Regions from separate parts of the Homo sapiens genome. Here regions 1 and 3 are each linked to region 2. The links come from fine-mapping of genetic effects on gene expression. A gene starts in region 2. Each other region holds a variant in brackets. All regions are shown on one strand. Distances are from middle to middle. Region 1 overlaps LYPLAL1-DT (LYPLAL1 divergent transcript). Region 2 holds the start of LYPLAL1 (lysophospholipase like 1). Region 3 overlaps LYPLAL1-DT (LYPLAL1 divergent transcript).

The links. PIP is the estimated chance that this variant, and not a neighbour inherited with it, causes the effect.
Region 1: its variant is the best candidate, but not a certain one, in a credible set for the expression of LYPLAL1 in monocytes after LPS (Kim-Hellmuth 2017, PIP 0.67).
Region 3: its variant is the best candidate, but not a certain one, in a credible set for the expression of LYPLAL1 in whole blood (TOPMed, PIP 0.79).

The regions. Positions count from the first base shown.
Region 1 is chr1:219,095,750-219,106,888 of GRCh38, reverse strand. All of the region lies in intron 3 of LYPLAL1-DT (LYPLAL1 divergent transcript), which reads left to right. Among named protein-coding and RNA genes, the nearest start is that of LYPLAL1-DT, 72 kb to the left of the region's middle. The variant TA/A (reference allele first, on the strand shown) is at 4,236.
Region 2 is chr1:219,169,159-219,180,297 of GRCh38, reverse strand. It overlaps LYPLAL1 (lysophospholipase like 1), which reads right to left and starts at 6,420. Exons shown (of 5, transcript NM_138794.5): 1 at 6,317-6,420; 2 at 1,052-1,151. The coding sequence starts at 6,407. It overlaps LYPLAL1-DT (LYPLAL1 divergent transcript), which reads left to right and starts at 6,510. Exons shown (of 5, transcript NR_038845.1): 1 at 6,510-6,828. RefSeq lists enhancers at 2,446-2,735, 6,130-6,459, 6,540-6,589.
Region 3 is chr1:219,129,100-219,140,238 of GRCh38, reverse strand. The region is part of intron 3 of LYPLAL1-DT (LYPLAL1 divergent transcript); the gene reads left to right. Among named protein-coding and RNA genes, the nearest start is that of LYPLAL1-DT, 39 kb to the left of the region's middle. The variant G/C (reference allele first, on the strand shown) is at 5,245.

The sequences.
Region 1 (11,139 bases), 73 kb after region 2:
TCCAATATCAAATGGCAAATTTCAACAATGCAAAAACTGCAATTACATTTGCACAAACCTAATAGTTATGTTTCTGATGAGCTTAGACTGTTATACCTATAAGATGTTTTATGTAAGCTTCATGGTAACCACAAAGAAAATATCTATAGAAAATAAACAAAATAATTAACCAGGTAGGGTGACATGAGCCTGTAATCCTAGCTACTCAGGAGGCTGGGGCAGGAGAATCACTTGAACCTGGGAGGCGGAGGTTGCAGTGAGCTGAGACTGAGATGGTGTCACTGCACTCCAGCCTGGGCAACAGAGTGTGACTCTATCTAAAAAAAAGAAAAAAAAAAAAAAAAAGGAAAGAAAGAAAGGAAGGAAAGGAAGGAACGAAGGGAGGGAGGAAAATAGGGAAAGGAATCAAAGGCTATCACTAAAAAATCACCAATGGAACACAAAAGAAGACAGCAAGAGAAGAAAAGAAAAATGAAAGAACTACAGGACACTTAAAAATTTAACAAAATGGCAATAGTGAATCCTTCTGTATTAATAATTACTTTAAATGTAAATAGATTCAGCTGTGTAGTTGAAAGATATAGTAACTGAAGCCAAATGGATTAAAAAAAAAAAAGACCCAACTATATGCAGTCTATAATAGACACACTTTAGATTTAACGACACACATAGGCTTAAAAGGGGAAGGTTGAAAAAAGATATTCCATATAAATGATTAACAAAAGAGATTATCTATTGCCTCTAAGGGTGGCTGCCTTTGAGACTTCATCTACATAATAAGAACCTTCATCTGCACAACCATTCATCTTAACTCAGACACTCCTTTCTATTGTTTTCAGGTCTTTAAATAATGACTCCATCAACCAATTGCCAATCAGAAAACCTCTGAATCCACCTATGACCTGGAAGTCCCTGTTTTGAGTTGTTCCACCTTTCTGAACCAAACCAATGTATACCCTACATGTATTGATTGATGTCTTATGTCTCCATGAAACACATAAAATTAAGCTGTAACCCAATCACGTTGGGCACATGTTTTCAGGACCTATGTCTTATACTTATATAAAACAAAATATACTTTAAGTGGAAAGATCCAAAATTGACACCCTAACATCACAATTAAAAGAACTAGAAAAGCAAGAGCAAACACATTCAAAAGCTAGCAGAAGGCAAGAAATAACTAAAATCAGGGCAGAACCGAAGGAAATAGAGACAAAAAAAACCCTTCAAAAAATTAATGAATCCAGGAGCTGGTTTTTTGAAAGGATCAACAAAATTGATAGACCGCTAGCAAGACTAATAAAGAAAAAAAGAGAGAAGAATCAAATAGACGCAATAAAAAATGATAAAGGGGATATCACCACCGATCCCACAGAAATACAAACTACCATCAGAGAATACTACAAACACCTCTACGCAAATAAACTAGAAAATCTAGAAGAAATGGATAAATTCCTCGACACATACACTCTCCCAAGACTAAATGAGGAAGAAGTTGAATCTCTGAATAGACCAATAACAGGATCTGAAATTGTGGCAATAATCAATAGCTTACCAACGAAAAAGAGTCCAGGACCAGATGGATTCACAGCCGAATTCTATGAGAGGTACAAGGAGGAACTGGTACCATTCCTTCTGAAACTATTCCAATCAATAGAAAAAGAGGGAATCCTCCCTAACTCATTTTATGAGGCCAGCATCATCCTGATACCAAAGCCGGGCAGAGACACAACCAAAAAAGAGAATTTTAGACCAATATCCTTGATGAACATTGTTGCAAAAATCCTTAATAAAATACTGGCAAACCGAATCCAGCAGCACATCAAAAAGCTTATCCACCATGATCAAGTGGGCTTCATCCCTGGGATGCAAGGCTGGTTCAATATATGCAAATCAATAAATGTAATCCAGCATATAAACAGAACCAAAGACAAAAACCACATGATTATCTCAATAGATGCAGACAAGGCCTTTGACAAAATTCAACAACACTTCATGCTAAAAACTCTCAATAAATTAGGTATTGATGGGACGTATCTTGAAATAATAAGGGCTATCTATGAAAAACCCACAGCCAATATCATACTGAATGGACAAAAACTGGAAGCATTCCCTTTCAAAACTGGCACAAGACAGGGATGCCCTCTCTCACCACTCCTATTCAACATAGTGTTGGAAGTTCTGGCCAGGGCAATTAGGCAGGAGAAGGAAATAAAGGGTATTCAATTAGGAAAAGAGGAAGTCAAATTGTCCCTGTTTGCAGATGACATGATTGTATATCTAGAAAACCCCATTGTCTCAGCCCAAAATCTCCTTAAGCTGATAAGCAACTTCAGCAAAGTTTCAGGATACAAAATCAATGTACAAAAATCACAAGCATTCTTATACACCAATAACAGACAAACAGAGAGCCAAATCATGAGTGAACTCCCATTCACAATTGCTTCAAAGAGAATAAAATACTTAGGAATCCAGCTTACAAGGGACATGAAGGACCTCTTCAAGGAGAACTACAAACCACTGCTCAATGAAATAGAAGAGGATACAAACAAATGGAAGAACATTCCATGCTCATGGGTAGGAAGAATCAACATCACGAAAATGGCCATACTGCCCAAGGTAATTTATAGATTCAATGCCATCCCCATCAAGCTACCAATGACTTTCTTCAAAGAATTGGAAAAAACTACTTTAAAGTTCATATGGAACCAAAAAAGAGCCCGCATCACCAAGTCAATCCTAAGCCAAAAGAACAAAGCTGGAGGCATCACGCTACCTGACTTCAAACTATACTACAAGGCTACAGTAACCAAAACAGCATGGTACTGGTACCAAAACAGAGATATAGATCAATGGAACAGAACAGAGCCCTCAGAAATAACGCCGCATATCTACAACTATCTGATCTTTGACAAACCTGAGAAAAACAAGCAATGGGGAAAGGATTCCCTATTTAATAAATGGTGCTGGGAAAACTGGCTAGCCATATGTAGAAAGCTGAAACTGGATCCCTTCCTTACACCTTACACAAAAATTAATTCAAGATGGATTAAAGACTTAAACGTTAGACCTAAAACCATAAAAACCCTAGAAGAAAACCTAGTCATTACCATTCAGGACATAGGCATGGGCAAGGACTTCATGTTTAAAACACCAAAAGCAATGGCAACAAAAGCCAAAATTGACAAATGTGATCTAATTAAACTAAAGAGCTTCTGCACAGCAAAAGAAACTACCATCAGAGTGAACAGGCAACCTACAAAATGGGAGAAAATTTTTGCAACCTACTCATCTGACAAAGGGCTAATATCCAGAATCTACAATGAACTCAAACAAATTTACAAGAAAAAAACAAACAACCCCATCAAAAAGTGGGCGAAGGACATGAACAGACACTTCTCAAAATAAGACATTTATGCAGCCAAAAGACACATGAAAAAATGCTCATCATCACTGGCCATCAGAGAAATGCAAATCAAAACCACAATGAGATACCATCTCACACCAGTTAGAATGGCAATCATTACAAAGTCAGGAAACAACAGGTGCTAGAGAGGATGTGGAGAAATAGGAACACTTTTACACTGTTGGTGGGACTGTAAACTAGTTCAACCATTGTGGAAGTCAGTGTGGCGATTCCTCAGGGATCTAGAACTAGAAATACCATTTGACCCAGCCATCCCATTACTGGGTATATACCCAAAGGACTATAAATCATGCTGCTATAAAGACACATGCACACGTATGTTTATTGCGGCACTACTCACAATAGCAAAGACTTGGAACCAACCCAAATGTCCAACAATGATAGACTGGATTAAGAAAATGTGGCACATATACACCATGGAATACTATGCAGCCGTAAAAAATGATGAGTTCATGTCCTTTGTAGGGACATGGATGAAATTAGAAATCATCATTCTCAGTAAACTATTGCAAGGACAAAAAACCAAACACCGCATATTCTCACTCATAGATGGGAATTGAAAAATGAGAACACATGGACACAGGAAGGGGAACATCACACTCTGGGGACTGTTGTGGGGTGGGGGGAGAGGGTAGGGATAGCATTAGGAGATATACCTAATGCTAAATGACGAGTTAATGGGTGCAGCACACCAGCATGGCACATGTATACATATGTAACTAACCTGCACATTGTGCACATGTACCCTAAAACTTAAAGTATAATAATAATAAAAAATAAAAATAAAAAAATAAAAAATTAAAAAAAA[TA/A]AAAATAAAATAAAATAAATAAAAATAAAAATAAAAAGGATCACAAGAGACTCCAATTAACAGTTATACACCAATAATTTGGATGGTGTTCAAGTTAAATGTATAAGAGTTACAGGAAATAAAAACAACATACAAAAATTATTTGCATTTCTATATAACAACATTAAACTCTCTGAAAAGGAAATGAAGAAAATGATTATATTGATGAAAAAGCCAAACTGTGTAAAATATCTAAAGAGATTTATTCTGAGCCAAATATCAGTGAACAAGGCCCAAGACATAGTCTCAAGAGGTCCTGAAAACATGTGCCCAAGGTGGTTGGGTTACAGGTTAATTGTATATGTTTCATGGAGACATAAGACATCAATCAATACCTGTAGGATATACATTTTTTTTGGTTCAGAAAGGTGGAAGAACTCAAAACAGGGACTTCCAGGTCATAGGCGGATTCAAAGATTTTCTGATTGGCAATTGGTTGAAAGAGTCATTATTTAAAGACCTGGAATCAATAGAAAGGAGTGTCTGGGTTAAGATGAGTGGTTGTGGAGATGAAGGTTCTTATTATGTAGATGAAGTCTCAAAGGCAGCCACCCTTAGAGGCAATAGATGGCAAATATTTTCTAATTCAGTCCTTTTAAGGGTGGTAGATTCTCAACTAATCTCCTCCGGCTCAGAAAGAGACCTGCAGTTCTCTACAAAATGTAAATTTCCCCCACGAGAGAGCTTTGCCAGGCCACTTCAACATATGTCAAATAAGTATATTTTGAGATTAAATACTCAATTTCCTTTAGGGCCTGCTATTTGTCATGTGATGCTCTGCTAGGATCGGATTGAATTTGGTATCATATTGCTACAAATAATCAGGTTGTCAGTGTAAAGATCTCTGTTTTAATGTTAATGCTGGTCATTTGTGCCTGAATTCCAAAGGAAGGAGAGTATAATGAGGCATAACTGAACCCCCTTCCCATCATGGCCTGAACTAGTTTTTCAGATTTTTTTTGGAATCTTCTTGGCCAAGAGAAAGGGTCCATTCAGTCAGTTGGGGGGCTTAAATTTTTACTTTTGGTTTATAATTCTATTTATGATAGCATCAAGAATAATAAAATACTTAGGCATAAACTTAAATGAAGAAGTGAAAGACCTGTACATTGAAAACTACAAAAAAATGCTGAAAGAAATTAAAGAAAACCAAATAAATGGAAAAACACCCCATGTTAAAACCTATCAAATTTTATATATTAATTATGTGCAGCTTTTTGTGCATAACAATTACACCTTAATAAAGCTGTTAAAATAAAGGGAACATTCTGAACAATAGTAGAGGATTAAGAGAGTTGGCTGACTGCAAAGGAGAAGATTCAAGAGTTTCAGAATTCAGTGGAGAAATAAGAACTGGATCAAGGGTCAGCAAAGTCAGTTAAATGAAATAAAGAAAACATATAGAATAAGCTTTGAGATCACAACACCTTTGAGGAGATGAATACAGTAGCTGATGACCAAATGATGTAATTACCCTGGGATGGAGTGATGCTAGTGCCCGTTCACCTCTTTGTTGGCAACCGGAGACACTGTCAGTTGGATTGGATGATCACTATGCTTAAAATGTTTCTAGCATTATTACTGCAACTGCTGTGACTCTAAGGACAGACATGACAACAATTACAAAATGCCTCTTGAATCTTTTCATTTTCCTCCACATTTACCATTTTATTCTACTCCAGGCCACCATCATCTCTTACCTGGAACGTTGCAATAGCCTCCAGACTGTAATCTCTGCTTTTGATCTTCCCTAGTTCTAGGATAATTCACCAAAAGTCAACCAAATGTGGGATGGTTTATTTGCTAACTCTCTTTGAAGTATTTATTTCTTTTTTTATTCTTTTTTTTACCATTTACAGTTATGTTCACCTTGTCTCTGCCTCAGCTTCCTGGTGCAACTGTAGCCAGAAGAGGAGAGAGAAGAGGACATTGGAGTGCACGAGAAGAATATATTATAAAAGAATATTGCTTGATTAAAAAGCATTTTTTACTGGATAATACTTCTTAATTTAGAAAAATACCAAGGAGGGCTTTAAAATTGTATCTACACATTGTGGATCTCTTTCACAGTCTCTGCACTTTCCCCACATTCCCTGTGAATTTTTTGTTTCTTCTTCCTTTTGACTTATTTTTTTTTTTTACAGACAGGGTCTTGCTCTGTCACCCAAGCCAAACTGCAGAAACATGACCATAGCTCACTTTAACCCCCAACTCCTGGACTCAAGTGATCCTCCAGCCTCAGCCTCTGGAGTAGCTGGGACTATAGGCACACACCACCACAACCAGCTAATTAAAAAACAAAATGTAGAAACAGGATCTCACACTGTTGCCCAGGCTGGGCTCCACTCTTGGCCTCAAGCAATCCTCCTGCCTTGGCCTCCCAAAGTGCTGGGATTATAAACATGGGCCACCATGCCCAGCCTCTTCATCCTCTTTAAATAGTATTGTTATCACAAATGCATGTATGCCTAAAGTAGCTGTATATTTAGTTGAGCTTGTTTTACATTTCTACACACATAATATTGTTACTGAAAAAGCAGAGGTTCGGTTTAGGTCCTGTCGCTTGCCACACAGAAAGCCATTCACTGAGATGCCAATTATTGACAAGGAAGAACGCTTTAATTGGATGCTGCCGCTGACGAGATGGGAGCTCAGTCTCAAATCCATCTGCCTGACTGACTAAAACTATGGGTTTATATAGTAGGGAACAAATGCAACAATATGCAAGAAACAAGAACTAGGGAGGGGCAAGCAAGCAATCATAATGAATGAAGGATCTGGCATCTCATTGTCTGGATGTGGTGCTCTGGTGAGCTTCAGTTCTTTGGTACTTTGAGAGGCTTGAAGGTCATTTACTGAGGAAGGAACTCAGATCGAACAGATGTAAGGTTCAAGCTTTAAGACCATAAGAGTCAATTTCTATGTTTACCCAAACAACTATCTATGGGACTATTGGGTTGTTTTCAGCATTATATTGTATGTAGTCTTCTGAGTCTTGATGATTTTTATTGAACATAGGCTTCTGCGGTTTATATATGTTACTGCACACAGTAGAAATTTTTTTCATTTTCACTGTCATACAATATTCAAATATGTGACAGCACCACAATTTTTCATCTATTTCCTGTTAGACTCTGGGTGACTTTCAGTTTTCTGATAATATAAAGAGTACTGGTATACACATTTTACATATCTTGCAGTCATTTGAATAGTTTTTCTAGGATATATACCTAGGAGTGGAATTTCTGAGTTATGGTATATACAATGCTCAACTTTGGAAAATAATGATACACAGTTTACCAATGCAGTTGTACACATTTATGCTTTCAAAAGCAATGTATATAAATTACTCACTCCAACACTAGATGTAGTCAGACTTCTTAATTTTTGCCTATCTCTCAGATATAAAGTTTCTCATTCTTAATATTCATTTCTCTGATTGCAAATGAGAGGAAGCATCTTGTATATCTAGCAATTCCTTATCCATGAAATATATATTTGTGTCAGTTTATCTATTAATTTGTTTGTTTTTATTATTAATTTGTGGGAATTCTTTACAAATACTTAATTTGAACTCTTTGTTAATAATGTATGTTACAAATATTTTCCCTTGGTTTATGGCTGGTTTTTTACAATCTTTCTTTCACTGACATATCTTTTGCTGAACATATGTTCTTAATTTTAATGTAGTTAAGTTTATCATATTCTTTTGATTAGTGATTTTTGTATTTTATGTAAAAAGCCTTCCTTAACCAAAGGTCAGAAAGATATTCTCCTATATTTTCAACTTAATGCTGTTTTTCACATTGAATTTCTTACCTACCTAGATTTTTAAAAAATATTTTCCTTTCTGGATAATGACAATCATACTACCATTTACTGATGAGTCCCTTTCTCTACTGACCTGCAATACGTATTTGTCATATATGAATGTTTCATAAATATTGGGTCTATCTTATATTTAATTTCATTTCATTGGTGAAGTTTTCTTTCTCTGACTTGCTCAGTGTCCTACTTTGTAGTTTTAAAATAATATATCTAAATATCTGCAGGGTAATTTACTTATTTTCTTCTTTTGTTTCAGAATGTCTTGGTTATTCTTGATCCTTTGCTCTTTCACATAAACTTTATTATTAGCTTGTCAAGTTCCACTTGACTCCACTCTAGATTTGGCAAGCATTAATGTCCTTACAGTTTTAAGTCTTCTTATCCCAAAACTCATGTCTGTCTCCAAGTTCTTTTTTTTTTCTTACATTTCTTTAGCAGATTTTTATAATTTTCTGCATATAGGTACTGTCTACATTTCATTAGATTTATTCTCAGGTTTTATATAGTTTTCATTGCTGCTATGAAAATGTCACCTTTTAAAATTATATTTCCTACTGAGGACATATATTGATTTTTGCCTATTGATCTTATAGCTAGCTCTCTTGCTAAACACCCTTATGATTTCTGATTATTTGTCTTTGGATGTATTAGTCCATTTTCATACTGCTATGAAGAAACACCTGAGACTGGGTAATTTATAAAGAAAAAGAGGTTTAATGGACTCAGAGTTCCACATGGCTAAGGAGGCCTCACAGTCATGGAGGAAGGCAAAGGAGGAGAAAGGCAAGTCTTACAAGGCAGCAGGCAAGAGAGTATATGCAGAGGAACTTCTTTTTATAAAACCAATAGATCTCATGAGACTTATTTACTAACATAGAATGGCAGAGGATAACCCAACCCCATGATTCAATTACCTCCCACTGGGTCTCTCCTATGACACCTGGGGATTATGAAAGCTACAATTCAAGATGAGATTTGGTTGGAGACACAGGCAAACTATATCATTACACCCCTTGCCCCTCCCAAATCTCATGTCCTCACAATTCAAAATACAATTATGCCCTTCCAACAGTCCCCCAGAGTCTTAACTCATTTGAGCATTAACTCCAAAGTCCAAGTCCAAAGCCTATAAAATCAAAACAAGTTAGTTACTTCCTGGATACAATGAGGGTACAGGTATTGGGTAAATAGACCTGTTACAAATGGAAGAAATTAGCCAAACCAAAGGGGCAACAGGCTCCATGCAAGTCCAAAATCCATCTGGGCAGTAAAATCTTAAAGCTCCAAAATGATCTCCTTTGACTCCATGTCTCACATCCAGGTCACACTGATGTAAGAGGTGGGGTCCCACAGCCTTGGGAAGCTCCACCCTTGTGGCTTTGCAGGTTATAACCCCACTCCTGGATGGTTTCACGAGCTGGCATTGAGTGTCTGCAGCTTTTCCAGGTGCATGCATGGTGCAAGCTGTTGGTGAATCTACCATTGTGAGGTCTGGAGAATGGTGACCCTCTTCTCACAGCTTCACTAGGCAGTGCACCAGTGGGGACTCGGTGTGGGGACTCCCATCCCACATTTCCCTTCTGCACTGTCCTAGCAGAGCTTCTCCCTGAGGGTTCCTCCTGTGCAACACACCTCTGCCTGGACATCCGGCCATTTCTATACATCCTCTGAAATCTTGGAGGAGGTTCCCAAACCTAAGTTCTTGATTTCTGTGTACCCACAGGGCCAACATGACGTGTAAGCCACCAAGGCTTGGGGTCTGCACCCTCTGAAGCAACAGCCTGAGCTGTACATTGGTCCCCTTAAGGCATGGGTGGGACACAGGGCACCAAGTCTTGAGACTATACAAACCAGCAAGGCCCTGGGCCTGGCCCATGAAACCATATTTTCCTCCTAGGCCTACAGACCTGTGATGGGAGGAGATGCTGTGAAGACCTCTGACATGCCTTAGAGGCATTTTCCCCAGTGCCTTGGCAATTAATAGTTGCTTTTAAGAGCACCAAAGTCACCTCTTGCATGCTTTGCTGCTTAGAAATTTCTTCCACCAGATACCCTAAATCATCCCTCTCAAGTTCAAAATTCTACAGATCTCTAAGACAGGGAGAAAAATGCCACCAGTTTCTTTGCTAAAGCATGAGAAGAATCACATTTGTCCCAGTTCCCAGTAAGTTCCTTATGTCCATCTGAGACTACCTCAGCCTGGAATTCATCGGCCATATCACTATCAGCATTTTGGTCAAAACCATTCAACAAGTCTCTAGGAAGCTTCAAACTTTCCCACATCTCCCTGTCTTCTTCTAAGCCTTCCAAACTGTTCCAACCTCTGCCTGTTCCAAGGTTGCTTCCACATTTTCTGGTATCTTAATAGCAGTACCCCATTCTACCAGTACCAATTTGCTGTATTAGTCCATTTTCATACTGCTATGAAGATATATCTGAGACTGGGTAATTTATAAAGAAAAAGAAATTTAATGGACTTACAGTTCCACATGGCTTGGAAGACCTCACAATCATGGCAGAAGGCAAAGGAGAAGCAACCACATCTTACATGATGGCAGGCAAGAGAGTGTGTGCAGGGGAACTGCCCTTTATAAAACCATGAGATCTCATGAGACTGTTTCACTATCACAACAACAGCATGGGGAAACCAGCCCCCTTTATTCAATTACCTCCCACCAGGTCTCTCCCATGACATGTGGGGATTATGGGAGCTGCAATTCAAGAAGAAATTTGGGTGGGGACATCGCCAAACCATATCATTGGATAATCTGAGATTTTGAAAGCAACCGATATCACTTGAAAATTATGATAATTTTGAATTTTTTCCTTTCTAATTCTTATCCATTTATTTGCATTTTCTTGAATTACATGCTAACTAAACTTAAAGGAGAATGTTGAGTAAAAATTGTAATATGAAATATACTTGTATTAATTCTAAAGGGAACTCTTCTAATGCTTCTCCATACTGAAAGATGTCTCATTTTTGGTAGACATACATTATAAGACTAAGGAAGTCCTTTCTTGCTACTGTTTGGT
Region 2 (11,139 bases):
AAATCAAGAACAGGCCAGGTGCAGTGCCTCATGCCTGTAATTCCAGCACTTTTGGGAGGCCGCGGTGAGTGGATCACCTCAGGTCAACAGTTCCAGACCAGCCTAGCCAACATGGCAAAACCTTGTCTTTAAAATTAGCTGGGCGTGGTGTCACATGCCTGTATTCTCAGCTAGGCAGGAGGCTGAGGCAGGAGAATCCTTTGAACTTGGGAGGCAAAGGCTGCTGTGGGCCAAGACTGCACCACTGCACTCCAGCCTAGGCAACAGAGTGAGACTCTGTCTGGAAAAAATAAAAAAAGAAGAAGAAAAAGAAACAAAAAAAAATCAAGAACAGATTATGAGAAAAATCAGATTGGGGCGTAGCTCCACACATCATTTCACTTAACCAAAAAAAAATCCCAATCCCTGATTTACGGCATGTGTTCCGAATAAAAGACTATGCAGATGTTAATTTAATATTTACAAAGAGTAGTTTGACCTCAAAACTATAGCAGTTTTATTACTGTGAATTTTTTGCACACACCTACAGGTTATATAACCTAAATATTTATTAAGTAGTCAATTCTATCTTCCTATTCTGGTTTACTGATTAAAAAAGCATAACATTGTTTCTTGATAATCCTTTTAAATGTGGAAAGAATGCCATAAAACCCTTTCCCAGAGATTATGAATTCTGGCTTAACTAAATTATTAGAAAGATTATACTTGTTGGAGTTATTAAGTTTCCTTTTGGGGTGAATGTAGGGAAGAAGTATGAAAGTTGAGCAATCTGCAGGGCAAGAGGAAGCAGAGTTACATAAGCCATGCTTGGGACACAGTTTAAATTCAGAGCTTTAGGGAATGCTTTACAGAAAGGGAATAAATTACTCACCTGGCAAAACTTGGTCCAACAGTGTAACTGCAATAAAGAATACATTCTGGGGACAAAGTACTCTAATTTAAAGTATGTTAAATACAAAATTAAGCTTAAAGAACACCTAGCTGGCACATCTCTCTATATATATTTTATGCCACAGAGTTATATTGACAAGTGAGATAAATTACTGCATACCTGGGAGGAGCTGTTGGATAAATAATTTTTATGTGTTGGAATGTTAAATCTTGATTTAAAACCTGCTTGATCCACATTCTTAATCCTTGTCCAGAATCACCTGATGAATCAAAAAATCTAGATTAAAATAAATATTTTAGTAATACAATGCATTTCAAAGCAGTCTAAAACTTTTATGTCACACAGAGGATGGAATAAAGGATTTAAAAAAGCTCCATACATCATAATAACCATATAGAAACTGACTTACTAATATGAATTAACTAACTAGGTCTCAATAACTAGCAATAATTTTGATTATTTTACTCCTGGCTTCACCATTGATTACTCTGAAGATCTTGTTTAAGCTTAAGTTTTAAGTTACCTAATTTGTTTAGTGGGTAGTACAGGAATAAATAAATAAATTGATTTTTCTAAAAAAAATTTTATTTCTGTATTTATATGTGACTTTTAATAGTCATTTCTTATCATATTCTTAATAGTAATAAATTCCTAAAGTGACTGTTAAACTTCTGTAGTTAGAAGAACCTAATTTTCTTGGTTAAAAAAAGTCCAAAATGTGTGTTCAGTGTAATTTTATTTTAACTTGAAAAAATCATAATTTAATTTTGACAACATGTTTACATGACCTAAAAGAAGAATTATCTACTCCAAAGCTGGTAAGTAATAAAAAGCCATATAAATATTAATGTATATGTATTTACAGAAAAAAATGGAAGGAAATATAAGTCCATCTTATGGAGTCCTGAGGAGGAAATTAAGGTCACAACTTTAATTTTTTAATCAATTAACTCATTAAGGTATCAGTTCAAAAACTGCCTATTGAATCCCTGTTAATGTGTCAAGCACTGTGTTCACTGCTAGAGAGGCAATGATGGTGGGGTGAGGGAGGAATAGAGTCCCTATTCTCATGGAGTGTGTAGCATATTGTGAAAAACAGAAATTAGTCAAAAAATCACACAAATAAATGTGAAAGGCAAATGTACCTGCTTCAAAAATGAGACACTTGGTGTTGCAAATATTTATTTTATTCACAACTGACTGGGTTTATGGAGTTCAACAATAAATGCACTAGCCTATAAACTCTGCAAGAGGAAGTTTATGATGTATTTTATCTGAGTTATTTGTTCACATAGTGCCTAGAACAGGACTGACAAAAACTGGGTATCCAAATATAGTTGCTGAATGGTTTGAACTAAAGTCTACAGGATGGTGAGAAGTGCAGGGCAGAAGAAAAAAGTATCCCAGGGCGAGGAAAGGGCAGGTGCCAGGATTCTGGATAAGAGGGAGCAGTATGACATGTAAGAACTGAAAAGCAGAGAATGAAAAGAGCAGTGTCTATAAAATGAGACCAGAGAAACTGTAGGAACGTGACAAATCTGTTCATGAAGAAGTCATGAATATTTCTGACAGAAAGGTTGGCATGATTCTAAAGGATCAATCTGGAAGCTGTGTCAAGACAGAATTGAAAGAGAGCAAAAGTAGATGTACAGAGATCAGTTAGGAAACTACTGTTCATGCTTAGACTACAGCGATGATGTAGATAGAAACAGATACTAGAGAAATTTAGGTGGTAAAATTAATAGAGATTGGCAACGGATTTGTTATAAAGGGTCAACAGTAAAAGGTCTCATGGATGACTAACAGGCTTTTGGCCGGAGTAACTGGGTGAACAATACTAGACACCTGCCTAGACAGGAAACATAAGCAACAGGCATACACAGGTTGAGTGTGAGGTGCCTCTTTGTAATGCATACAAGGTCTTATACCATGGGTTGATTGAGCAACTATGGACAGCTAGAGGGGAGGACAAAATCCAGCCTAGGGTCCTTAAGGAGGATAAGCTAAGAATGAGTTTTACATTATTAAAGACTCCTTTCTCAAAAAGAGAGAGAAGGGAAAACTATGGGGAAGAGACCTTACATGGCCCACAAAAGCTAAAATGCTTACCTGACTTTTTGCAGAAAGTTTGCCAACCCCTGCCCTACACTACCTGGATGCCAGTACCCTCTTGGATATCCCTTCCTATTCTTCTCACTCCAGACACACTAGCCTTACTGCTGTTCCTTGAACATGTCAAGGACCCTACCCTGGAGCCTCCGACTTGGCTTTAAAGCCAAGTCTAAGTCTAGCTGTGAAGTTTCATCTTCTGTCATCTTTGCAGTGAGGCATAACCTGACTACTTTATTTAAAATTGTAACACTGTTCCAACTTCTCATCCATGGAAGAATCCCCTTATCCTGCTTTCCTTGTTTCCATAAAACTTACTACCTTCTACTATAGTATTTATTTACTTCATTAGAACATAAGCTCCATGAGAGCAGTGATTTGTTTTTTTCATTGCTGTATGATCAGAGCACAGAACAGTGCCTTACACATGGAGGCTGTGATATATTTCTTGAATGAATGGATTCATGAATGAATGTCTATCAGGCAGTTAGATGAACTTGTCTAGAGCTCAAAAATAGAATCTATGAATCTCCACAGAAATTCAAAGGTTCTATTTTTACCTATACACCAGTGACACAAATGGGTATCTCTAGGAGACTTCTGTGATTAGCCTAGGGAGAAAAATGTAGAGTGAAAAGACCTTGGACCAAATTTAGAGAAACCCCATCATTAATGGCCAGGTAGAGGAGGATGAGTCTGCAAAAGAAACCAGAAGGAGCAAATCAAGACAGAAAAAGAACCAGGAGAGTTTTTTGAGAAGAAAGCTGAATGCAGATGACAGTTCACGTAAGAGGACGACTGAAAATGTCCATTACATTGAGCGACATAGAGCCTGAGCTTACTGGTGACTTTACCAAGAAGCTACTCAGTCAACTTGCTGAGCCTTACCACACAAGAAGAAAGCCATAAACAAGACACATGGTTTGGGCTTTGTGGACCTACTAGCTTAGTGTGGAATACAGACATTACATTACATAATTACAAGTATGATGACTACCACTGAAAGAAGAACCAGTGTCCTATGGGAGCAAATAAGAGTGAATTAATCTGATCTGAGAGACTGAACAAAACTCATTAACCTATCATTTATTTTTATCATCTTAAAAGAAGGTCCGTCTTTAGTACTTTATTAATAGAAAAGGCTCAAATTAAGTTGGCTACATATAATTTACACTCCCATATGTTCTTCTATGGCTGCTATCTCCTAGAAGAAAATCTCAAGCTTTTAAGGTTTTTTATTTGAAAACACAAAATCTGTCTTTAACAACATTTTTTCAGCCTCGAAGAGTAAGAATGCAGCTGCAAAACAACATCTATCCATTCCCAATGTCCACTTTTTAAAAAGCTAGTACTTTATTCCATAGTAAAAGTGTTAAAACTGGTTAACAGTATGGCAAAACTGAGTGTGATAAAACAGAATTGGTTTGCCCATATTCTAGTTAAGCAGAAACCAAACATCTCCTATAACATAACCACATACATTAAAGTTGAATGTAAAATCACTAGCTGCTAAAGACCTACTGGATGATAAAGACCTACTCCCAACGATAAAGATGATAAAGACCTACTCCCAATAAGGTTTTATTTACTTCAGTGGAGATTTAAATATATAGGAATCACATTATACTCGCATACTTGGCAGAATTCTTTGAATAAATTCTTGGTTCAAAGTACAAAGGAAAAAATACATACATACATGACTCTGAATTTTAGAGACATACCCTTACAGGTTATAAAAATGTAATCTGAAATTCAAAAAAAGGATAATTATTTTAAGCAAAGAGGTCCAGGGGAAAAAAGAACATAGTCTAGGAGTTCTTCCTAAAGATAATGAGAATTGATTATGAGAAAGGGTACAGTGTTGGGGAATTTCTGGGTACTTATAAATGAACACTCTTGGAGCCCTAAATAGTACTACCAGTCTCCTAGTTATTAAGTACCGCTGTCATCTTACACACGTCACCTTCTAAATATATGCCGTCTTTCCCTTTAAACACTATTGGACCTCTTCTTCCCTATCTCCAAAACAATATATCCTAGTTCAAACTTTTTCACCTTACCCCACCAAAGCCCTGAGTTTGAGGTCGGAGAGCTTTGGGTTCTAATCCCAAATCCGCCACTACTCACAGTAACAGCTAAGAGACCTTGGCCAAGCTGCTGAACCTGTCTGGCCTCATTTTCAAAATAAAGAGAATACCTCCCACAATTGCCCTTTTCCAGGTCTCTGCCCAGTACCTTTCCAATTCCCTTCCAATCACCGTCCCATTTAAGCCTACCCGTCTCGGCTCAAAGACCACTTTCTTCGAAAAGTCTGACAAGCTTTTCATCTTCCAAATGCCTTAATAATGCCTAACCACATTTTTTTCTCTTACAATTCACTTGGCAGGAAACCATGCACCGTCTTGTGATCTTCCATGCACTGCTGACTCAAACTAATTGGATTGTTTTTGTTTTTAACTTTAGGTAGGCCCCCTGAGGACACCGGCTGCATCTCATTTCTTTAAAAAACATTTCCTGAGAGCTTACCCTGGGCCAAGCACTGGGGGTGCAAAGGTTGACACAAGGGCCCTTACTCTCATAATCCAGTGGGAAGTTCACAATCCAGTGGGGAAGACAGACAAAAGTGATTACAGATGAGTGTTAAGTAACGATACAGCATTAAGCACACGTTACTAAGGGCAGGTAGTGGAAGATGCCTGTCCCTGGGGGTCCTGCCCCTGTAGTCTATCTTGGAAGTTTAATGACACAGGCGGGAAAGGGAAAGGAAGGAAAGAGAAGCAGCAAAAAGGAAAGTGAGAGAAAGCACTCCAGCCATGGCACAGTGGCTTACAGAAAAGAGATAATCTGTAAACAGTATCTAAGTTAACTGTGAATCTCAATTGTCTACATTAGTATGGGAGCCTGGAAAAAGCAATGGGCAATTACGACTGAAAAATCACTAGTAGCTGATAATGAAAAACACTAAATAATTTCCCTCTAGCAGAAGACTTACCTTACTAACTTGCTCTGTTTAAACTTGGGGCGAGGAATGGGGAGGTGTGTTGTGGGGATGGAGGGCTGGCTGAGCGGCGGGACACAAGGCCCCAAAGCGAGGGTGGTGGACCAGTGACCGCCCGATAGAAAGAGGAAGACTAACGGGGGAGGCTGGGGGCAGGTGGCGCTGCCCGTGCATCTACAGCCGGGGCTGGCGACGGGGGAGCCACCCACTGGGCCCTATTTGGGCCCGGCGACACCTCCACTTGGGCAATACTGGGGTAACCGAGGGGAGGATGTTTCCCGAGCTGTAGAAAACCAGGACGTAAAATTGAAATCCACCTGAGCCATGCAGGAAGATCAGAGAGGCGCTATGCCTCCCTGCCGGCGACACGATACAGCGCTGCAGAACCGACCCCGACGCAGCCGCCATCGCTGATGCCACTGCCAGTCATGCGGTTCCGCCCCTGCGTTGCCGCGCGGGGCCGCGCACGCAAATACGCAGGCACGCGCGGGAGCACGCCCGGGAGCGCGCATGCGCAGCGCTGCTGGCCCGCTCTCTGAGGAGCTTTCAATACTTTGGGGTCAAGTTTGAGGCAGTTGTAACTGTACTGAGTTTAGTTTTGCTAATAATGGTATTCTACGTGTGTCAGCCTCGTGTGGACTTCTGTAATGACTAATGGATATGTTTATATCCTGAGCATTTGCTGTAGGAATTTTAAATGCAATCCCAAAACTCAAGATTACCTTATTTGGAGAAATATTCGTGTTACTATGTTTAAAATTTAATAGAACCATATTTTACCTTTCACTTTGGGACTCGCACAGGATGTTTGCAGCTCTTGATATACAGGGTAAGCGAAGCATATAATAATAAGTTCTCTTCGTGTCTCTTATTTTTAATAAATAGTTTACAAAGCAAATCTAATTTAATGAGATTCTGCTTTATATACCCATTAGAATGGCTCTTATCAAAAAAACAGAAAATAAGTATTAGTAAAGATGTGTAGAAATTAGAAACCTTGTGCATAGCTGATCAGAATGTAAAATGATGTTGCGGCAATAGAAATAATTTGGTGGCTCCTCAACAAGTTAAACATTGACTTAGCATAGGTACTAGCAGTTCCACTTCTAGGTATATACCCAAAAGAGATGAAAGCAGGGACTCAAACAAATACTTGTACTTCAGTGTTCTGTAGCAGCATTATTCACAAGTACCAAAAAGTGGAAACAACTCAAATGTTCATCTACAGATGGAGAGATAAACCAAATGTGCTATGTACATATTGGAATGGAATATTATTCAGCCTGTAAAAAGAATGTGATTCGGATACATGCTACAACATGGATGAACCTTGAAAACATTATGCCGAGTGAAGCCAGACACAAAAGGACAAATAATTGTATGATTCCACTTACATGAGATATCTAGAATTGGCAAATGCATAGGGACAGAAAGTGAAATTAGAGGTTACCAGGGACTAAGGGAAGAGGGAGTTGGGAGGTTGTTGTTTAATGAGTACAAGAGTTTCTGCTTAGATAGTGAAACATTTTTAAAAATGGACAGTGATGATGGTTGTACAACAGTGTTAATAACTGCCAGTGAACTATACACCTAGTAAATTTTATGTGTATTTTACCATAATTTTAAAAATACTAAGAAATGGAATTATTTCCTGTATAAAGTCCAAAACATAGGTATCTTTTAATACTGAAGGCAGTGGCCCCAGCAGGTTGCTCTTGCCTCATGTAAAATTCAACAAAATAACCCAGTAAAAGCTTAAGTACCATTAAACACTGGCCTTCCATTCATTGTAGTCTGCATTACATTTTAGCAATTACAACTTACCTTTTATTTGTTCCAGGTAATCACCCTACTTACAGGTAAGTAAACTGTTTACTATCAACATTAGTTGCCAAAATCAGCTCTAAGCTATCATGGTGTTATATTAATAACAATACCATCAACAAGAATGGTCCTACATGCCATTAGTTAACCAAATCAAAAAGAAATTCTGAGTCATTTCTCCAAAGCCCATAGATCTGCAGCAGAGAGTTGTATAAGTGAAGTCCCTGAGGAGGACAAACTAGGGTAGGCTGAGCTCTGATAGCCAATTCTTAAAAGAAAAACCTCTGTCTTTTGACCTGCCTTCCCCGTATGAGTTCTAGATAACCTTCCCTAGCCAGGTGAGAAGAGGGCAGTGCTACTAGGAAAGACCACTTGGAGATATACAGGGAAGGCTTTAAGTTCTACTCTTAGAACTCCATTTACTACCTGAAAATCTTACTGTACACCACCCCACGCTTTTGAGACAGCAAAAAATCAGAATATAATTATTTAAGAGTAATGATTATTAATAATAATAAGCAACTAATATTCATGGGATTCAGTAGGTGCCAAAAACTGTCATAAATTAATTCCAATAAAACTCAGTACTATTACTATCTGCTTTTGTCAATGAGGCTCAAAGAGGTAAGGAACCTGGCTCAAAGTCATAGTGCCAGTCAATTGTAGAACCTGGATTCACATGCTGGGCTTGACTCCAGAGCATAGGTTCTTAACTATTACCCACATTTACACATGAGTGCACAGAAATGAAGCAAGGGCATGTCGCAACTCTTATTTCAAAAACAAAAGTCTGGAATTTGTATTGTGGCCCTTTAGAGTCTCTATTTATTAGGTGTTCCTGTGCTTCTTTAGTTTTTCCCAAGTCTACTGCTATTAGTTCCTGATTTGTTCTTCCAACTATTCTACCAGTTTAAACAGGTAGATAAGCAGGTGGTAAATACCAGAAGCAACCTTCTGTATTCTGAATTTCACTGAGAACTCCAGCCTTCCCAGATTCATTATTAGAATGAGCCAGATTCTTCCACACTTAACCAAAGTGCTATTTTATTTCCAGTGATTTAAATGCTTAGCTATTGTTGCTATTCCTTTCATCTGTATTTGTTTATAGGACAAGCAAAGGTTTTAGATTACCTATATTTAGAGATCCCATCTGGTAGGCAAACTGTTGAACAAAAATGTTTTGTTCCTTTCATGTTACTGTACTACTTTGAAATGTAATTAAGTTTCAAGATGACTATTTGCTTTTGTGGTGGATCTTTTGCCCTATTGAAGGTGGGGGAATATTATCACTGGAAGATTCCTATTCATACATTCTTTTACTCTTTATATAGCTCCTAATTATTTTTTGTTGCTACTCATTTGCTTTCTGCCAATCTATATGCACCTCCTTTTGGTAACTTCAGTTCTAAACTTAAAAAAGCAAGTAAACAAAATAAAAGAAAAAGAAAAAGTTCTCCTGTTTTGCAGGGTTTCAATATCAATTAGGATCTAACGATATAAATGGCAAAGTCGGAGTTTAGTTTACTGTTCTTCAGTGTGTTGAGAAATGCTTTAGGCCACACTTAGTTTTCAAAACAGAAAAGCAATTGAAAGTTCAGCCATTAAGATTAGTATATTTTGCCTGGGTGCAGTGGCTTACTGTAATCCCAGCACTTTGGGAGGCCAAGGCAGGCGGTTCACTTCAGGCCAGGAGTTTAAGACCAGCCTGGCCAACATGGCGAAACCCCATCTGTACTAAAAATACAAAAAAACTTAGCCGAGCATCATGGCGCATGCCTGTAATCCCAGCTACTCCGGTGGCTGAGACACAATAATTGATTGAACCCCGAGGCAGAGGTTGCAGTGAGCCAAGATCTCACCACTGAACTCCAGCCTGGGTGACAGAGCAAGACTCTGTCTCAAAAAAGAAACAAAAACAATGAACAAGATTAGTATACTTGGTATTTTCAAATGATAACAGTTAAATGAAGTTGCATTTGTCACGCAGACAGTACACAGTTTCCCGTTTGTTGTTTGGCTCATTCTTAAGCATCAAACCATATCCTCTCTATTGGTTAGTTTTCATCTGTTGCATCATTCAGAGAGAGAGAAACACACACACACACACACACACACACACACACACACATATATATATAAACAATATATACACATTGCACAAAATGCTTCAGCTTCAGCTTTAGGTAATTTAACATTTTGTCATAGATAAATAAAATGATTTCTTTTATGCATTCCCCCTGTCCATTCATGAAAGAAAAACTAGAAACAAACTTAAAGGTCCTGAATTCTTACAAAACAGCAAAACTATACTTTTTATAAATGAGATTATAAACTTTAACATAATCATTGCCTCAGTTCTGGGGACCTTAATCTTTTTCAGTCCAGTCTTTCCAGATACAGATATGGGTCATTCCTCTACTTTACCTTACTACTAGATGTGCATGGTCTCATTCTCTTTTTAGAGCAGATGGGTCACGTGGGGCATTGTGAGATGGACTGAGATGGCATTGGCAGTAGGGGTAGGGGAATACATGAGCTCCTCAAACACAGACCAAACGCAGCCTTGGAGAATGGATAGTGATTACTCTGCTGGATTATTAACAGTCAACATGATACACACCAAAGCAGTATGTAGGCCCTAGAGGAGGACAGTGAACTTTCCTCCCTTGGGTGCAGGCTACAGGGTCAGTGTTTATGCTTGGACACCAGAACAATGTTCTTTGCATTGCCATTTGTCTCCTCTTTTCTGGGAAATGGGTCTTCTTCCATTTGGACACCTCTTATGGCCAGTTCTCAAATTCCTAAGTTACCCTCTGGAAACACTTCTTATTCAACTTCCACTCAGTGCTTATATGAGTCTGAGGAATCCCTCCTGCAATCTTCATATTTGTCTCTGTACTCTAGAACCTATTACTTTTTTCTTCTATAACAAATTTTCAGGCTTTTGAAATCCAGGGCAAGAATCAACAGCAACCCCTAATCAGGTTTTGGGCCCTTGAGGGCAGGGAAGTTCAAATCCTACCATGAGATGAGGGGAAGTCATTGCATTGCATACGTCTATTACAAAGAAAAGAAATAAAAGCCAAAAGAGTAATTTCCTTATGAATGCAGTCAGAATATCTACTGTATTTTGCTACATTCATTTAAGAGAAGATTAGATAGGTAGATATAAAAAATGTTGAAGTAATGAAATGATAGGAGTTCCTGTTCCAGCCTCGGGGATGACAAGCTATGTAAATTAGACAGGCCATTTAGTCTCATTGGACACGTTTCTCCAATTGTGAAATAAGGGAGCAGGACTTGATGGAGAAGCCCC
Region 3 (11,139 bases), 40 kb after region 2:
TTGTAAGAGTTCTTGTGGACCTATTTATGTCCAACTGCTAGGGGCATTCAGTGCCTGGGGTCAAGACCAGGGTGCTGACATTCAAAAGCAGTGCAAATATTCAGAAGACTAACAAGCACTGTTCTCACACATCTCCTAGGAAAAACTTCAAAGTGGCCCTTTTTTTTCAATTTTTTTTATTGTAGTAAAATACACATATAATAGTTACTATCATAACCATTTTAAGTGTACAGTGTAGTGGTATTAAATACATTCCTAATAATTTGCAACCATTACCACCATCCATCTCCATAACTCTTTTCATCTTGTAAAACTGAAACTCTATACCTATTAAGCCAAAGCTTCCCATTTCTGCCTTTCTTTAGCCTCTGGCAATGACTATTATATTTTTTGTCTCTATGATTTTGACTACTGTCAGTATCTCATATAAGTGGGTTCACACAGTACTGGTCTTTTGTAACTGGCTTATTTCACCTAGCATAATGTCCTCAGGGTTCATCTATGTTTTAGCATATGTCAGAATTTCCTTTCTTTTTATAGGCTGAATAGTATTTCATTGTATTCGTATTACCACATTTTGCTTATCCTTTCATTCATGATAAACACTTGCGTTGCTTACACGTTTTAGCTATTGTCGATAATGCTCATATGAACATGGATACATAAATACCACTTCAAGACCCTGCTTTCAGTTTTTTGGATATATACCTAGAAGTGGAATTGCTAGAGCATACAATAATTCTATTTTAAATTGTTTTAGGAAATGCCATACTGTTTTCCACACTTGTTATTCTCTGTTTTTGTAAATAGTAGCTGTCTGTATTAGTAAGGATTTTCCAGAGAAACAACCAATGAGAGAGAGAGAGAGACAGAAATTTGGAGATTTGTCATAGAAATTGGCTCATGTGATTATGGAGGCTGAGAAGTGCCACAATATGCCATCTGAAAGCTGGAGGACCAGGAAAGCAAGTGGTGTAATTTAGTCTGAATCCAAAGGTATAAGCTTCAGAGTCTGAAGTTCCCAGAATCAGGAGTTTCTGTGTGTGAGAGCAGGAAAAGAAGGATGTGCCAACTCAAGGAGAGAGAGAAAATTTACCCATTTGACTACCTTTTTGTTCTATTTGGGCCCTCAATTGATTGGATGATGCCTGCTTACAATGATAACGATGGATCTTCTTTACTCAGTCAAATACTATTAATAATTACTTCCAAAAACATCCTTAATGACGTATCCAGAAGTAATGTTTTACCAGCTACTTGAGCATCTCATAGTCCAGTCAAGTTGACACATACAGTTAACCATCATACCAACCTAATGGGTGTAAAGTGTAATCTTGTTGTGGTTTTGATTTGCATTTCCTTAATGATTACTGATGTTGAGGATTTTTTCATATGCTTATTGGCCATTTGTACATCTTTTTGAAGAAATGTCTATTCAAGTCCTTTACTCATTTTTCAATCAAGTTTTTTTTTGTTGTTGTCGTTGTTTTTTTTTGCTGTTGAGTTTTAGGAATTCTCTATACATTCCAAACATTAATTTTTTATAAGATATTTGATCATAAATATTTTCTTCCATTCTGTGGGTTGCCTTTTTACTTTGTTGATATTGTCTTTTGTTGCACAAATTTTAAAAATTTTCATGAAATCCAATTTGTCCATTTTTTCTTTTGTTGACTGTAACTTTGGTGTCATATCCAAGAAGTCATTGCCTAATTCATTGTTGTAAAGATTTTGCCCTAGGTTTTCCTCTAAAAGTTTTATAGTTTTGAGTCTTACACTTAGAATTTTGATCCATTTTGGGTTAATTTTTGTATGTGGTATTAGATAAGGGCCCAGCTTCCTTCTTTGGCATGTGTTTACCCAGTTTTCTCATAACTATTTGTTGAAGAGACTGTCCTTTTCCCATTAAAAGTTCTTGCCACCCTTGTCAAAAATCATTTGGCCATATATGTGAAGGTTTATTTCTGTGCTCTTTATTCCATTCAATTACATGTCTGTCCTTATGCCAGTACCACACTGTTTTGATTACTGTAGCTTTGTAGTAAGTGTTGAAATCAAAAAGTGTGAATCCTTTAACTCTGTTTTTCTTTTTCAAGATTGTTTTGTCTATTTAGGATCTCTTGAGATTTCATATAAGTTTCAAAATGGATTTTTCTATTTATGCAAAAAATATTATTGGAATGTTGACAGGGATTACATTGAATCAATAAATCACTTTGGGTAGTATTGGCATTTTAATAATACTAAGTCTTTTGATCCATGAATATGGAATGTGTTTTTATTTACTTACATCTTTAATTTCTTTCAGCAATGTTGTGTAGTTTTTATTGTACAAGTCTTTCATCTTTAGTTTCTAAAGTACTTAGAAATTGACTTTTCAGTGCTATTATAATGGAATTTTAAATGTTATTTCCTTTCAGATTGTTCATTATTGGTGTATAGAAATGCAACCAATTTTTGTGTGTTGATATTGTATCCTGCTACTTTGCTGAATTCATTTACTAGCTCTAATAGATTTCTTATGGAATCTTTAGGATTTTCTACATATAAGATCATATAATATGCAAACAGAGATAATAATTTTACTTCTTTCTTTCCAAGTTGGATGTCTTTTGTTCTCTTGTCTTCACTAATTGCTCTAGTTAAATCTTTTAGTACTATGTTGAATAGAAGTAGTGAGAGCGGGCATCCTTGTCTTTTTTTCTGATCTTAGAAGAACAGCTGTAAGTCTTTCATCATTGAATACAATGTTTGCTGTTTGCTTTTTATGTATGACTTTTATTATGGTCAGGTCGTTTCTTTCTATTCCTAGTTTGTTGAGTATTTTTATTGTAAAAAGGTATTCTGCATCAATTGGGATAACGATGTGCTTTTTGTTCATTCTGTTAATGTGGTATATTACATTGATTGATTTTGTATTTGAATCATTCTTGCATTCCCAGATTAAACCTCACTTGGTTATTGTATATAATTCTTCTAATATGTCACTGAATTAAGTGTGCTAGTATCAATGTTCACAAGAAATATTGGCTTGTAATTTTCTTTCCTTGTAGTATCTTTATCTGGCTTTAGTATCAGAGTAAAGCTGGTAAAGCTGGCCTCAGAAAATAAATTAAGATGTTTTCTCTCCTCCTCTTTTTTTCTTTTTCTTTTTCTTTTTTGGAAAAAGGTAAGAACAATTGGTATTAATTCTTCTGTAAATGTTTGTTAGAGTTCACCAGTGAATCCATTAGGTTCAGAGCTTCGCTTTGTTGGGAGATATTTGATTACTAATTCAGTTTCCCTACTAGTTATAGGTCCAAACGGATTTTAAATTTCTTAATAATTTAGTCTTGGTAGATTTTATGTTTTTAGGAATTTGTCAATTTCATCTACTGATCCAATTTGTTGGCATACTATTGTCCATGGTATACTCTCTTGTAACCTTCTTGTTTGTGTAGAATTGGTAGTCATGTTTTCATTTTCATTTGAGTAGCTTCTCTTTTTCTTAGTTCAGCCAACTAAAGTTTTGTCATTTTTGTTAATCTTTCCAAAGAAACTAATATTGGGGGGCTTATAATTTTCTCTATTGTGTTTCTATTCTCTATTTCCTTTATCTCTGCTCTAATTTTTATTTTTTGCCTTCCATCTGGTAGTTTTGTGTTTAGTTTGTTTTTTTTTCTAGTTCCTTCAATTGTAAAGTTAGATTGATGATTTGAGACCTTTCTTGTTTTTTAATGTAACCAGTTATAGCTATATGTTTCCTCTTTAGCACTGTTTTTGCTGCATCCCATAATTTTTGGTATATTTTCATTTTCATTCATCTCCAAATATTTTCTTCATTTTTTGATCCGATTGTTGTTTAAGAGCATGTTGTTTTATTTCCACAAAGTTATGAATTTTCCAGTTTTACTCTGTTACTCATTTCTAACTTTATCCCAGTGTTGTCACAGAAGATACTTTGTATGATATCTATCTTTTAAAATTTACTGAGACTTAATTTGTGGACTAATATATGGTATATCCTGGAAAATATCCCAAGTGCACTTGAGAAAAATATATATATGGCTGTTAGATGTGTTGGTGTATTGTGTTAAGTTCTCTGTTTTCTTACTTTTGTCTGGTTGTTCTATTCATTATTGAAAGTGACGTATTGAAGTGTTCAATTATTATTGAAGAACTGTCTATTTTTCCCTTCAATTATTTCACATTTTCCTTAATATATTTTGATGGCCTGTCATTAAGTGCATAAATGTTTATGTTATTATATAAACTGTTATATCGTCTTGATAATTTGACTCCTTTATCATTGTATTATAACCTTTTTGTCTCTTGTGATCTTTTTGACTTAAAATCTATTTTGTCTGGTATTAGAGTAGCCATACTTGCTCTATGTACTATTTGCATGAAATGTCTTTTTCCATCCTTTCAATTTCAATTTTTGTGTGTCTTTGGATCTAAAGTGAGTCTCTTGTAGACAGCATATAGTTAGATTGTGCATGCTCTTTTTTAATCCATTTTGCCAATCTCCCTTTGATTGAAAAATCTAATCAATTTATATTTAAAGTAATTATTGATGAGAAAGAATTTACTTCTGAATTTTGCTATTTGTTTTCTATGTAACTTTTGTAGCTTTTGTGTCACCCATTTCATGCATTGCTGCCTTCTTCTGTATTTAGTTGACTTTTTGTTTAAACTTCTTTCTCGTTTCCTTTTGTATATATTCTATAGCTATTTTCTTTGTAATTGCCAGGGATGTTATATTTAACATCCTAATGATGTAACACTCTGATTTGAATTTATACCAGTTGACTTCAATAATATACAAAAACTCTACTTCTTTAATAGCTCAATTCTTACCCCATTCAATTGTTGATGTCATGAAATTACATCATTATAAATTGTGTGCTGAAAAATATGAAATAGGAATTTTTCTAAATACATTAGTCTCTTAAATTATGTAGAAAACAAAATGTGGGGTTACACATCAAAGTTACAAAATATTGGGTTATAGAGAAATACTTTTTAAAATGTCTCTTAAATAAAAGTAGAGTTGCAAACCATCATTACAATAATATTATACCAGCTTTTATTATTGCCTGTATATTTACCTTTATTGAGATCTTTATTTCTTCATATGGCTTTGCATTACTGTCTAGTGTCTTTTTTTTTAATTTTTTTATTTTTTTGAGATGGAGTCTTGCTTTGTCACCAGGGTGGAGTACAGTGGTGCGATCTCGGCTCACTGCAACCTCCGCCTCCTGG[G/C]TTCAAGTAATTCTCCCGAGTAGCTGGGACTATAGGTGCATGGCACCATGCCCAGATAATTTTTGTATTTTTAGTAGAGATGGGGTTTCACCATGTTGGCCAGGATGGTCTCGATCTCTTGACCTCATAATCTGCCTGCCTTGGCTTCCCAAAGTGTTGGGATGACAGGTGTGAGCCACTGTGCCTGATCCTGTCTAGTGTCTTTTTATTTCACCCTGTAGGACTCCCTTGAACATTTCCCTTAAACATTTGCAGGGCAGGTCTGTGTTTATCTGGATATTTTAAAACTAGTCCTTTATTTTTGAAGGATAGTGTTGCAAAATACAGGATTCTTGGTTGACAGATTTTTTTTTTCTTTTACTACTTTGAATATATCAGCCTGATGGCTCCTGGCCTCCAAATTTTCTTATGAGAAACCCAATAATGTTATTGAGGTTCCCTTCTATGTGATGAATTGCTTTTCTTTTGGTGCTTTCAAAATTCTCTCTTTGCATTTGTCTTTCTAAAGCTTCATTATATGTCCTGGTGTGGGTCACTTTGAGTTCATCTTACATGGAGTTTGTGGAGGTTGAAGTACCTCCATCCTGGATGCTAATCTGCCATGTTGACTTCTGATGAACTGCAATTCTGAGAATGCCTCTTAGATTTCTACTTTCACATGCTTACTGCAAATCCTGTCCTTAGGTCAAAACAACTTTGATATTATCATAAACGTATACTTACCATAAATGCTGCCTGTCCTTAGACAGATTTTCTGTGGTAAGTAAGTCCTGGGTCTAGGGGATAATGACATGAGGATCCACCATGTCGTTTTGTGGCCTTCTGAGACATGCCTCCTGTTTCTAAGTCCCTAGTAAGTGTTCCAGCCACACTACCCTCCTAGGTGCTCCTTTGACACACCAGGAGCTACTTGGAGCTTGCTGTATTCCTGTCCACTCTTCCACATGGCTCACTCTTTCACATCTTTCAGCTCTTTCCTCAAATATCTTTTTAGTTAGACTTTCCCAAAAACCTTAATTAAAATTGCTACTGAAATCAGTTTTGCAAAAATTACAACAGTGAGGAAATTACGATGGTGAAAGTGATCTAACCTAACCAACTCCATCTTACTTTTAATCTTCAAACTGCCCTTTGTCATTCCTAGGCATGGGCCCAAGTAACTTTGGGAGAAATTTATAGTTTAAATAATAATAGCCCCTCCTCAAACTAAACTGCCTTTGTAAAACTAATGAAAGGCCACCAGGTTAGGAGGATGAGAGGGGCCTGAATTCTGCTAAGATGTAGATGTAGTTAAATAATTACCAGCTGTTATTCCAGAGGTCACAAGATTCGCAACTTCTTCAATTACTCCTATAAATAACATCACTATTGTAGAACCTAAAATTGGCCTTTTAAGATGTTTTTTCAGGCTTCTGCCTTTTTGACAACCAGATGGTTCCATCCAGACTAGTGACTCCTCTGTGGCCCCCACCCACAAGGGGACTCAGTGCACAATGACTCTTTTCCACACCCCTATGATTGCATCTCCAACCAACCAGCAGCACCCATTCCCTATCCTCTTACCCGCCAAATTGTTCTTGAAAAACCCTAACCACTCGATTGTTGGGTCAGCTGATTTGAGTCATAATAAAACTCCAGTCTCCTGTTTAGCAGACTGTATGTGTATTAAACTCTTTCTCTGTGCAATTCCTATCTTGATAAATAGGCTATATCTGGGCAGCAGGCAAGACTTACACATTTGGTGGTTACACTACCCACTCAACACTTCCTATCCTCACCTGCTTAACTTTTTTTGATACTCTTTGTCACCTTCAGCACACTGTATTTTAGACTTAGTTATGATGTTCAATGTCTATCTCTCCCTACGAGAATATAAGCCCTGAGGACAGAGATTTTTGTCTTTGCCTTTTTTTCTCCCTGTTTATATCCCCAGGTCACAAAGCAGTATTTGGCAGCTTCTTGATTTATAATAAATATGTGTTAATGAGTGCCTATATAATTAAACTAATTTGCAAATGCATTGGCATGAAGACAACTGTATATATAGGAATTTTTAAAGAGATGTTTATTAATATTTTGAGGATGTGTTTTTTGAATAATGCTTAAAATAAGTACTTCTTTTGCTAACAAATAGGCATCTAATGAAAAAAGAAATTGTCATTTTATTTTCTGAATTCCAGTCACCTTCTTTCTTCCCTGCCTGGGCCAGCCAGAAGAAAGGGTAGCATTTTGCTAAGTTCTAAAAAATTCTTCATTCTGCTCTATGTCATTTAGTGTTAAATTCAATCTGATTATTGTCTGTATATTATAGTTATATTCTTATATTATGAATGTCTTATAGAAATGCAGTTACTAGGAATTAATGCTGATCATTTCAGAAAAAAATACAAAATTAATGAATAAATACATGTAGACCTGGTACACCCTGTGTAATAAAGCAATTATGCATATCCTTCAACTAAAGTTTGCCTATGTTCACAATAATCACTTCTGCCCATTTGAGAATATATGTGCTTGCACATCTTGAAGCATTTAATGTTATTCACATCAAGTTTTGGCACCTCATAGAGCATAAGCCATGCCTAGGATAGTTAATCATGGGAGCTGACATTCTTCATTTTCTGTACCTTAAAGTTAAAACTTATTTAAGGTAATCTTTTTTTTTCATATTTTTTCACCAAAGTAAAACTTCCAGAGCATGAAATAATGCAGTTAGTGTAACAGATTTTAAAAAAAAAAAAAAAAAACTACAGTAACTTTTTCTTGTGGTTATATAACGGCAAGGTCAAACTAAGGTGCCATCTGTCTAGATTCCTATCTCAAAATTCAAAAGGAATAACTGGGCATTGGGAAGCCTGCCTCACTGACAAAAATCAGTGACCAACACAAGACAGGGAAATGACGAAAATCCTCATCATTGGCCTGTTTTTTTCTGTGCAAATAGGTCATCAGGAGGAACCATGTATGGTGGCTATCTGGATGTTTGTTTCCTAAGAGCCCAGTGGGAGTTTCTAGTGCCTCCCCAAACTTCCTGCCTCGATTTGAAGTGTCTCTACAGTCTGATTCTCTTCATCAGCTATCCAAACTTATTTCCCAGTAATTTCATTCTAAAGCCTCTGTTTCTGTCATAATGATCCTGACTGTCTCCAGCCCTATTGCACTCACAGCTGTTTCTGTGCCTTATTTAAGTTGTTCCCTCTGCTCATATTCACCCTCTGTTCCACCCTGACACAGTTTTAGAAATTTTAAAAACGCATTTAAGATTTACCTCCTCTAAGATACATTTCCTGGAGAAACCAATTCATACAATCACTTTTCTCGTTCTTTAAAAAATTCATTAATTAATTCATTCACACTATACTTGAAATCTACCCATGTGCCAGATCCTGCTGGAAGTAATGAGGACAAAAGTGAATAAGAATTAATAAACTCAGCTAGGCACAGTGGCCCACGCCTGTTTCCCAACAGTTTGAGAGGCCAAGGCAGGTAGATCACTTGAGGCCAGGAGTTAGAGACCAGCCTGGCCCACATGTGAAACTCCGTCTCTGCTAAGAATACAAAAATTAGCCAGGTGTGGTGGTGTGCACCTGTAATCACAGCTACTCGGGAGGCTGAGGCACGAGAATCACTTGAACCCAGAGGAGGAGGTTGCAGTGAGCTGAGAATGCTCCACTGCACTCCAGCCTGGGTGATAGAGCAAGACCTTATCTCAAAAAAAAAAAAAAGATTAATAAACTCACAATTCATGGTGAAAAATGATGGAAAATAACAGAGTGTTGTATAAGTACTCAAGAGAAGTCACTGATTCCTGTCTGCTGCTCTTTATATACTTTACCCAAATTCACCAATTTCAACATTTTGTTACATTTGTTTTTCTTGCTTGCTTTTTCTCCCTACATTTCCTGAACTACTTGTGAATAGATTGCATATATTATTTCCCTTTACTCTTTAATAATCTGTGTATTATTTTCAAAGAACATTTCTCACATAACCACACTCAAATGGTCAAATTCAGAAAATGTACAATTGATACAATATATACTTTTATGCTTTGCTATTTTCCTTTGATATATTATGGAAGTAACTCCCTACTGCTTCAGTGAATTCTTCTTCATTTTCTTTTATAGCTACATAATACTATACTATTGTATTGTGTGCATGTAACATAGTATATTTAACCAATCTCCTATGCCTGGATATTTAGGTAGTTTCCAATATTTTGCAATTACAAATAATGAGGTAATGAATAACCCCTTGCATGTATTTTCATATTGTTCAGGGTAAATCCCAGGAAGTGGAATGGCTGCATGAAAAGATAAATACATACACAGTTTTGTTAAATATTGCCAAATCTGCCCTTCCATAAGAGTTAGGCCATTTTGCCTTCCTTTCAGCAACATATGAAAGAATCTTGCCAGTAGTGTATTTATATGCTTTTGAGGTTTTGCCAATATGATGGATAAGAAAAGTTATCTCAGCGAGCTTTAGTGTACATTTCTACTTCTGTGAGTAGAATAAGCTTTACATGTAGGGACCACTTGGTTAACTATATCTTTATGCTTTTGCTCATTTTCAACAGGATTTTAAAATCTTTTTTCTCAATTTTCAAAGCTTTTTACATATTAGGAATATTAGCATTTTTCTTTCATATTTGTTGCAGTAATTTTTTTCTGTTTTCCATTTATCTTTGAGTTTACTTATGGTAATTTTTTGTTTGTTCAATTTGTTTTGCCATTCAAAAGCTTTTTAATTTTTTTTTATATAGTTAAATTTATCAATCTTTCCTTTTATTGCATCTAGATTTGGGGAGCATAGTTATAAAGTTTGGCTCTATATCAAGGTTAATAAGGAAGAATTCACTCGTGTTTCCTTTTAGTACTTGCATGATTTCATTTATTACATTTAGATTGCTGGTAACATTTGTAGTTTATTCTTGGTAATGGTGCAAGGAATACATCTAGTTTTATCTTTTACTAAATGATTACCTAGTTGTTCCAGCACCATTTATTAAGGAGGTCTTCTTTGTCCCATTGATAACATCTTTTACATAGCATGTATATATATACACACACACACATATACATGTACATATGTATGTGTATGTGTACATATGTATATGTACGTGTGTGTGTGTGTGTGTATATGTTGAAATTGGTGAGTCTGGGTAAAGTATATAGAGCAGCAGGGAGGAATCAGTGACTTCTCGTGAGCACTTATAACACCCTCCGTTATTTTCCATCATTGTTCATCATGGATTGTGAATTTATTAGTTCTTATCCACTTTTCTGTCCTAATTACTTCCAGCATATCTGGCACATGGGAAGATTTTGTTTATAGTGTGAATGAATTTTTTATAGGTGTGTGTGTGTGAGAGAGAATCTAGTTTTAGACCTAATATTCTACTTAACTGGTCTGCTTATTCTTGCATCAATTCCATACTTAATTGCAAAGTTATGCTTATTTAATATAGTAGGTCTTAGCCACATGTGGTTACTGAAATTTAAATTTATTATAATGAAATAAAATTAAAACTTCAGTTGTTTAGTTGCACTAGGTATATTTTAAGTGTTCATTTAGCCACATGTGGCTATTTTATTGGACAGTGCAGATACAAAAAGTTCCATCATCACAAAAGGTCCACTGGATAATGCTGTTAAAGAGGTTTTTTAGTATGTTCTAATATCTGGTATGGTTAGTACTTTCTTATATCTCTTTAAAAAATATTTTTTCTGGCTTTCCCTTTTGGTCTATTTAATTTTTATTTTTTGAGACAGGGTCTCGCTTTGTTGCCAAGGCTGGAGTGCAGTGACATGATCATTACTCATTCATTGCAGTCTTGACTTCCTGGGCTCAAGTGATTATCCCACTTCAGTGTCCTAAAGTGCTGGAATTACA